2 linked regions of the Homo sapiens genome follow. The protein of the gene in region 1 interacts with the protein of each later gene in a pairwise test. Each region holds a gene or a part of one and is shown in the gene's direction. Other genes may lie near its edges.

The links. The genes of interacting proteins can lie anywhere in the genome.
Region 2: the proteins of ANKS1A (region 1) and KLHL26 interact in a two-hybrid assay, tested with the Homo sapiens proteins (one large-scale study listed by BioGRID).

Annotation. Positions count from the first base shown.
Region 1 is NC_000006.12:35,011,255-35,014,754, forward strand, and holds part of ANKS1A (ankyrin repeat and SAM domain-containing protein 1A), read left to right. Parts: intron 1-3,500. UniProt on the Homo sapiens protein: Regulator of different signaling pathways. Regulates EPHA8 receptor tyrosine kinase signaling to control cell migration and neurite retraction.
Region 2 is NC_000019.10:18,664,528-18,668,926, forward strand, and holds part of KLHL26 (kelch-like protein 26), read left to right. Parts: intron 1-2,873; coding exon of another isoform or gene 2,874-2,916; exon of another isoform or gene 2,917-3,049; coding exon of another isoform or gene 3,050-3,136; coding exon 3,137-4,399. UniProt on the Homo sapiens protein: May play a role in endo(sarco)plasmic reticulum (ER/SR) mitochondrial signaling. May be part of the ubiquitin-proteasome system (UPS) and affect ubiquitination and degradation of target substrates in cardiomyocytes.

The DNA of each region.
Region 1 (3,500 bases):
CCAGCAACTGGAGAAGAGAAAGCAAATGGCTATGAATACCCACTACAAGAACTGGCAGAAGATCAAGGGGAGCAAAGACAGCAAATATGCTATTAAATTAGGCATGGTTAGAAATCGTGGCTGGTTGGAAGCTGATCCAGGCAAAGCTGGTATATTGAAAACTAGGGAAGTTTGGGGGCCAGAGGTCAGAGGTCCAATGACAGGTAGAGAACAGACGCTTTAGGAGTTCAAGAAGAAGGGGGAGATGTAATGAGGTAATCAAGACCAAGTCAATGTGAAACAGTCCGAAGTCCCAAAGCTGGGCTATACCTATGGGCCCCAAGGTGAGTACAGATGGCTCCTAATCTGAAGATTCTCCACTGTGCTATTACATGTAATCCCAAACCAAACTTATAAGAATACTGGCCTTCCCTGGCATTTGAGTTTTATTCTGCCTCTTTAAAAGGGCTACTCAGAATAAATCAGTCTCCTTTGCAGAGTCAGGAGAAGGGAAACCAGCCTCTCTGTGCAGTGTTAGCATGATGAGCTAAGAGTTCAGAAATGACTGTAAATGAAAAATGGTGATAATGATAGCAGCTATCATTTACTGAATGCTTCCCACGGGCCAGCTGCCATGCTGATTTCCTTTATGTTGATTATGTCATTGTATATCTTGTGACAGATCTTCAGGGTAGGGGCTATTTTTGTCCCTGTTTCAGAGCTGAGGAAGAAAAGGTTAGGTATTGGAGCTGAGACTTAAACCCTAGTGTGACTGAATCCAAAGCCTGTACTTTTAACCATGAGGCTAAAACCATTTCATCAAAAGCCTTTCTGCTATTCATGTTCTTAACATCATAGAACTGGTAGGGACTATAGAGAGGTCCTTTAATCACAGATTCAAACTAGCCTAAATCCCAAAGCCCTGGAGAATGCATCCCAGGCATTCATTTTTTGAAAGAGACCTAGAGAGGAAAAGTCACGGGGCTGGAACTAAAACATGGGCTTCTTGAATCCCTGTCTAGCTCTTATTCTATTTCTCAGGTTGCCGTGGACCAAAATGAACTCTCAGTCTATTTGTCTTATCAAATTGCAGTCTTCAGCAAGTGTCTGAATAACTTGGTCAGGACCTTCCTTCCAGGAAGAGCCTGGTGACCCTCTGAAAGCAGCCATGTACTTGGGAGTTCTCCTGCACACCCATGGTTTTTGATGCTCACTATAGTGACTAGGCAGCTGGAGGATTCCAATCCTAATGATACGGAGAACACAAAACAATATGAGACACTGGGTCCCCCAGCCTTCTTCTCTGGGCCTGAGGGGAGATTTGAATTAGCAACTCCTCACATGAGCTGCATTCTTTAGCCTTAATTTAAGTGGGCAGAGGTGAATGAAAATGTGTAAATGTTGAAGTGTTATTATTCAAAAGCCCTTGAGATCCCATAGCTCATCGTAGTAATTAAAATGCAGCACAGAAGACCCCTTGCTTCAGTAGCTCACAGGGTATAAGGAAAATGAATGAGGATCACAAGTTGATGGGATTGGGAATTAGCATGCTGGTGTGCCATATTGAGTAGAACAGCTGGCCTCGATGTATGGGTAGCATAAGAAACAGGCCTCCCTCCCTGTGTGCCACTATCTCCTTGTTTCTCTCCTAGAAGGGCAGACTGTGGGGAGGGCAGAGCTCGGGGAACATGGGAAGTAGTGTAGGAGAAAGGCCTAAGGGTCTCTTCTGCAACTTCACTAGTCCCTGGGCGTGAGGTTTGTTGCCCAGGGTGGTCTCTAACTCCTGAGCTCAAGTGATCCTCCTCTCTCAGCCTCCCAAAGTGCTGGGATTACAGGCATGTACTGCCACACCTGGCCCTTCTCTGCCTTTTCTAATGTATTTTTACTTCTCTGTAAGCCTGACAAGGTCTTATTTCTCCTTCAGTGCTCAGCTCGAAAGCTACCTCTTCTGAGAAGCCTTCTGGTTCGAAGTAATCAGGCTTTCCTTTTTGTCTGCCAAGCATATGATTTATGCCTGTCTTAAAGCATCTATTGAGGCAGACTTGGTGTCTTTATTTTTTTTATTTTTTATTTTTTGGTGAGACAAGGTCTCGCTGTGTCTCCCAGGCTGGAGTGCAGTGGCATGATCACAGCTCACTGCAGCCTTGAATTCCTGGACTCAAATTATCCTCCCATCTCAACCTCCCAAGTAGCTGGGACAGCAGGTGTGCACCACCACACCCAGCTAATTTTTAAATTGTTTATAGAGATGAGGTCTCGCCATGTTGCCCAAGCTGATCTTGAACTCCTGAGCTCAAGCAATCCTCCCACCACAGGCTCCCAAAGCGTTGGGATTACAGGCGTGAGCCACCACACCCGGCCTCTTTATCCTCATATCCACCTGGGTGCCTCCTGAGGACAGACACTTCATACATTTGTCCATGGGATGAGTGGTTACAGTGACAGTTCTGGGGCCTGTCTCAGAGTTTCTCACTTCAGCCCTCTCACCATATTACCTTCTGTCCCTTCCTTCTGCTGTTCAGAGTTATAAGGATGGTGAAGGTAATGAATGCTTGTGAAGTGCTTTATATCTTACAGAGTACTTTCATGTACCTTATCTTTGATGATCCTTGTGACAGACCTGTGAGGAACGGAGAAGTAGTTGGTCTCATCTGTGAGCAAAGTGTGTTGTAACGGACCCTGTGTGGAGGATAATAACAATTTCAACATCTATTGAGAGCGTGGCATGTGCTAGACACGGTTCTTAATGCATTACACGTATAATTTAATTACCGCAACAATCCCCCAATTAAGATCCCAGAATTGCACAAAGAAGTGATTTGCTTAAAAACTGCTTCTTGATCAGTATATTCTATTGTTAGCACCTTGTCCCTAAGAGACCTTATATTATCCTTACTTTGCAGAAGGAAGAAACCATTGAGTAATTCTTTTCCCACCCATTGATCTGCCAAAAAAAACTCATCTTGGCCTTGGATGTAGTTTTTAATGGGAACAAGAACACCAGCCTTAGGGTCTTGGATCTCGGCAAGCTTTTCAGATACCAAAGTGTCTTTCTTAGGAATTGCCTGGCTAAGTCATATGATTATAAGAATTTCTTTCCATCATTTCTTATATTCCACAAAATATTGGTGGATTGTGGTTTCTCTAATAGGATTATGACCCTCAGAGATTCTTCCTCCACATATTTCCTTCCTCCGTAAGTTTCCATTCTTTCCTTCTACCCACTTCCTTCCCCTTGGCATGTGTCTGGTATTGAGCCCTTGGCATCTGTCTCTCTTTCATCATTGATAGCTAGCATGAATGGGTGGCTGTTTCACAGGGCCTGCATTGTTGGCTCCCACAGCAGCAGTTAGAACATTCTCTGTGGCCTGGGTTCTGAGGTCCACCCAGGCAGTGTGAGCCAGGCTGGCCCCCAGTTCTGAGCTGTGGTGTTTCCTTTCATTGTTGGTGCCTTAGCTCCCAGTTGTTAAATATGAAGCTGGAAGTTGATACAAAGCAGTAGAAGCCTGTGCTCCTTTTAC
Region 2 (4,399 bases), on another chromosome or scaffold:
GCCTGTCTCAGCGCTACCCAGGGACAGCTTCGAGGGAGAACGGCTGGTACCGGCTGCTCTTTTTTTTTTTTTGAGATGGAGTCTCGCGCTGTTGCCCAGGCTGGAGTGCAGTGGCACAATCTCGGCTCACTGCAACCTCCGCCTCCTGGGTTCAAGCAGTTCTCCTGCCTCAGCCTCCCGAGTAGCTGGGAGTACAGGCACCCGCCACCATGCCCAGCTAATTTTTTTTGTATTTTTTAGTAGAGACGGGGTTTCACCATGTTGGCCAGGCTGGTATTGAACTCCTGACTTCGTGATCTGCCTGCCTTGGCCTCCCAAAGTGCTGAGATTATAGGCGTGAGCCACCGCTCCGGGCCCCTTCTGATTTTAGAGAGAGGTTTAATGTCCAGTAAACCTGCAGGTTTCCCGGAGTTTGCATCTTACTCTCTTTGGGCAGAACATGCCTGGAGGGACAGAGATGGCCTGTGGGCACCCACTCACTTCTACCCTGCATGCAGGGTGGCAGGGCTTGGCCAGGTTTTTGATCTGTTTTGTTTTTTTTTTTTTTGAGACAAAGTCTCGCTGTGTCGCCCAGGCTGGAGTGCAGTAGCACAATCTTGGCTCATTGCAACCTCCGCCTCCCGGGTTCAAGCGATTCTCCTGCCTCAGCCTCCCGAGTAGCTGGGACTACAGGCGCATGCCACCACACCTGGCTAATTTTTTGTATTTTTAGTAGAGACGGGGTTTCACCATGTTAGCCAGGATGGTCTTGATTTCCTGACCTCATGAGCCACCTGCCTCAGCCTCCCAAAGTGCTGGGATTACAGGCGTGAGCCACTGCGCCCAGCCCAATCTGTCTTTACTTGACGCCTGCTGTATGCCAGGCACTATTCTAGTCCTTGGGATGCAGCAGGGATGACAGTGAAATGGGCACAAGCCCCTGCCCTCAGGGCATCCCCTCAGGACACCTGGAGCAGGACAGCTGGGGGACTGGAGGGGCATCGAGGGCCGCAGAGACCCTGTGTCTGCCAACACCATGTCCTGGGCTCTGTCTGAGGCCCAGATGAGTTCTCCTCCCTGTCTCCCTGAGCTGTGGGCACTTCCCCAACGTGACAGAAGAGGCCATGGCGGGCACTGTCTGTCTGTCCCTGTGCCGTGGCCGGGCCGGAAGTGAGAGCACCACAGAGCAGGGCTGTGGGGTGGGGGGTGCTTTCTCCTCGCCAGCTGGGGGCTGTTGCAGGGCTGAGTGGTCTCCCTCCCTGGGTGACCAGCAGGTGAGCCTCCTTCCTGCCAGGTGGTGACCCCGCCAGAGAGAGCTGGGCCGCCCTGGGGAGGCTCCCAGGCCCCAGCCCAGGTGTGCCGCTCAGCCACACATTCCCCGAGGCCCGGGCCGCCTGCCCCATGGGCTCAATGAGGCTGTTGTGGGGGCCGCAGCAGCCGAGCCAACTGGGGCGCCGCTTCTATTTTTATTCTGGATTTGGGGACGGGTGGGCCAGCCCAGCCAGCAATGCCCTTTAAAGGCTCCCCTGTGCTGGCACTGCAGCCAGCGAGACCTTAAAAGGCAAAGCTCCCTCCTGTCGCCTGCGACCGCCTCTGCCTTCATCGCATCATGCCCGAGGGCCAGCGTGGACCCGTGGGGACAAGCGGGGCAGGGTCTGGGGAGCTGGCAGCGTACTTACTGCTCCTGGACCGCTCAGAGATGCTGAAGAGCTGCTTGTTGGGCAGATGTCAGTGGGCGGCCCCGAGATAGTGCCCTGGCAGCTGTCCTTGCCCCTGTAGCCCTGAGCCTGGCTCACAGGAGGTGCAAGACTAGGGGACAGGCCTCTGTGGGTCAAATGCACAAGGGATGTTCCCTCCTCCTCGGACGGCCATCAGGGGAGGTGCACTGGCAGGAGTGAGAGTTACTATGCCATGCCATTGCGCCTCCTGGAAGGAACCGCCCATTCCCCTGGAGCTGGGGTGCTCTCCCCTCTTCTGCTGGGGAACACCCTAAACGCTGTAGGGGAACTGTGACCTAGAACCGTGTGCCTCCCCGCTGCCCTCCCTCACGGGGGCCTGTGTCCCCTCCCACTCTCATGTTCTGCCTCGCAGAGCACAGCAGTACAAGGGCGGAGCTGGGGTCTCAATGGAGGCTGGGGACGTAGCTGTTGGGTGGGAGGTGCTTCCCCGACCACCTGAGCCTGTCTCTGGAGACAGCAGTCACCCCAGCACAGCCTCCTGGTGGGGGCTCCATTCCTGGGGACCCTCATTACCTTCCCCTCTTCACATGATGGTTGTTGAGACTCAGGCTGGGCATATCAGAGCTGCCTGCTTAGGTCAGTGAACAAGGTGAGGGTTGAACTGTGGTGCATGGCACCTCCAGAGCACTGGCCTTGCAGTTCCTGAGCTCAGGTGTCAAGTGGGGCTGCAGATCTGTCCCCAGAGCCACAGGGTGTGTTCTCATCCTGCACTGCCATACCTGGCCCCTCTAACCGCACCCCCGACAGGCACATTGTGGGTGAGGCTGACCCGGGCCACCGCTCCTGCAGCTCCAACACGATCTAGTCATGAAGGGGCAGGGGCAGGGTCCTCTGCAGAGGGGCCAAGCAGGGAGTTGCTATTTATAGGAAGATGCATGGCTTGGGTGGATTCAAAATCTTTTTTTTTTTTTGCATGTTTTTTTTGTTTGTTTGAGACAGAGTCTCACTCTTATTGTCCAGGCTGCAGTGCAGCATGATCTCGGCTCACTGCAACCTCCAGGTTGGTCTTGAACTCCTGACATCAGGTGATCCACCCACCTCGGCCTCCCAAAGTGCTAGGATTACAGGCGTGAGCCACTGTGCCTGGCCTTTGCATGTTTTTGTTTGTTTGTTTGTTTGTTTGTTTTTGTGACTGAGTCTCACTCTGTCACCCAGGCTGGAGTGCAGTGCCAGTGGTCTCGATCTCCTGATCTCATGATCCACCCGCCTGGGCTTCCCAAAGTGCTGGGATTACAGGCATGAGCCACCGCGCCCGGCCCCTTTGCATGTTTTTAATGAGCATTCCGCCTACTTTCCTCTTGCTGGCTGTGCCCTGTGTTCTGTGTCCCCAGGCTACTGTTCCCCAGGCCAGATCATTCCTGGCTGGCCAAAACACCCCTCAGCCACTGCCAGCCACACGTTGTGTTTCTGCCCTTCAGGGCCATGTTCACCGGCGGCATGCGGGAGGCAAGCCAGGACGTCATCGAGCTGAAGGGCGTGTCGGCCCGTGGCCTGCGGCACATCATCGACTTCGCCTACAGCGCCGAGGTGACACTGGACCTGGACTGCGTGCAGGACGTGCTGGGCGCGGCCGTGTTCTTGCAGATGCTGCCCGTGGTGGAGCTGTGCGAGGAGTTCCTGAAGGCGGCCATGAGCGTGGAGACCTGCCTCAACATCGGCCAGATGGCCACCACCTTCAGCCTGGCCTCGCTGCGAGAGTCGGTGGATGCCTTCACCTTCCGGCACTTCCTGCAGATCGCCGAGGAGGAGGATTTCCTGCGCCTGCCACTGGAGCGCCTGGTCTTCTTCCTGCAGAGCAACCGGCTGCAGAGCTGTGCCGAGATCGACCTGTTCCGCGCGGCCGTCCGCTGGCTGCAGCATGACCCGGCCCGGCGGCCGCGCGCCAGCCACGTGCTCTGCCACATTCGCTTCCCGCTCATGCAGTCGTCCGAGCTGGTGGACAGCGTGCAGACGCTGGACATCATGGTGGAGGACGTGCTGTGCCGCCAGTATCTGCTGGAGGCCTTCAACTACCAGGTGCTGCCCTTCCGGCAGCACGAGATGCAGTCTCCGCGCACCGCCGTGCGCTCGGATGTGCCCTCGCTCGTCACCTTCGGCGGCACGCCCTACACCGACAGCGACCGCTCGGTCAGCAGCAAGGTCTACCAGCTGCCTGAGCCGGGAGCCCGCCACTTCCGCGAGCTCACGGAGATGGAGGTAGGCTGCAGCCACACGTGCGTGGCCGTGCTGGACAATTTTGTGTACGTGGCCGGGGGGCAGCACCTGCAGTACCGCAGCGGCGAGGGCGCAGTGGACGCCTGCTACCGCTACGACCCCCACCTGAATCGCTGGCTGCGCCTGCAGGCCATGCAGGAAAGCCGCATCCAGTTCCAGCTGAACGTGCTGTGCGGCATGGTGTACGCCACGGGCGGCCGCAACCGAGCCGGCAGCCTGGCCTCCGTGGAGCGGTACTGCCCCCGGCGCAATGAGTGGGGCTACGCCTGCTCGCTGAAGCGCCGTACCTGGGGCCATGCTGGGGCCGCCTCAGGGGGCCGCCTCTACATCTCGGGTGGCTACGGGATCTCAGTGGAGGACAAGAAGGCCCTGCACTGCTACGACCCCGTGGCCGACCAGTGGGAGTTCAAGGCGCCCATGAGCGAACCCCGCGTGCTACACGCCATGGTGGGTGCCGGCGGCCGCAT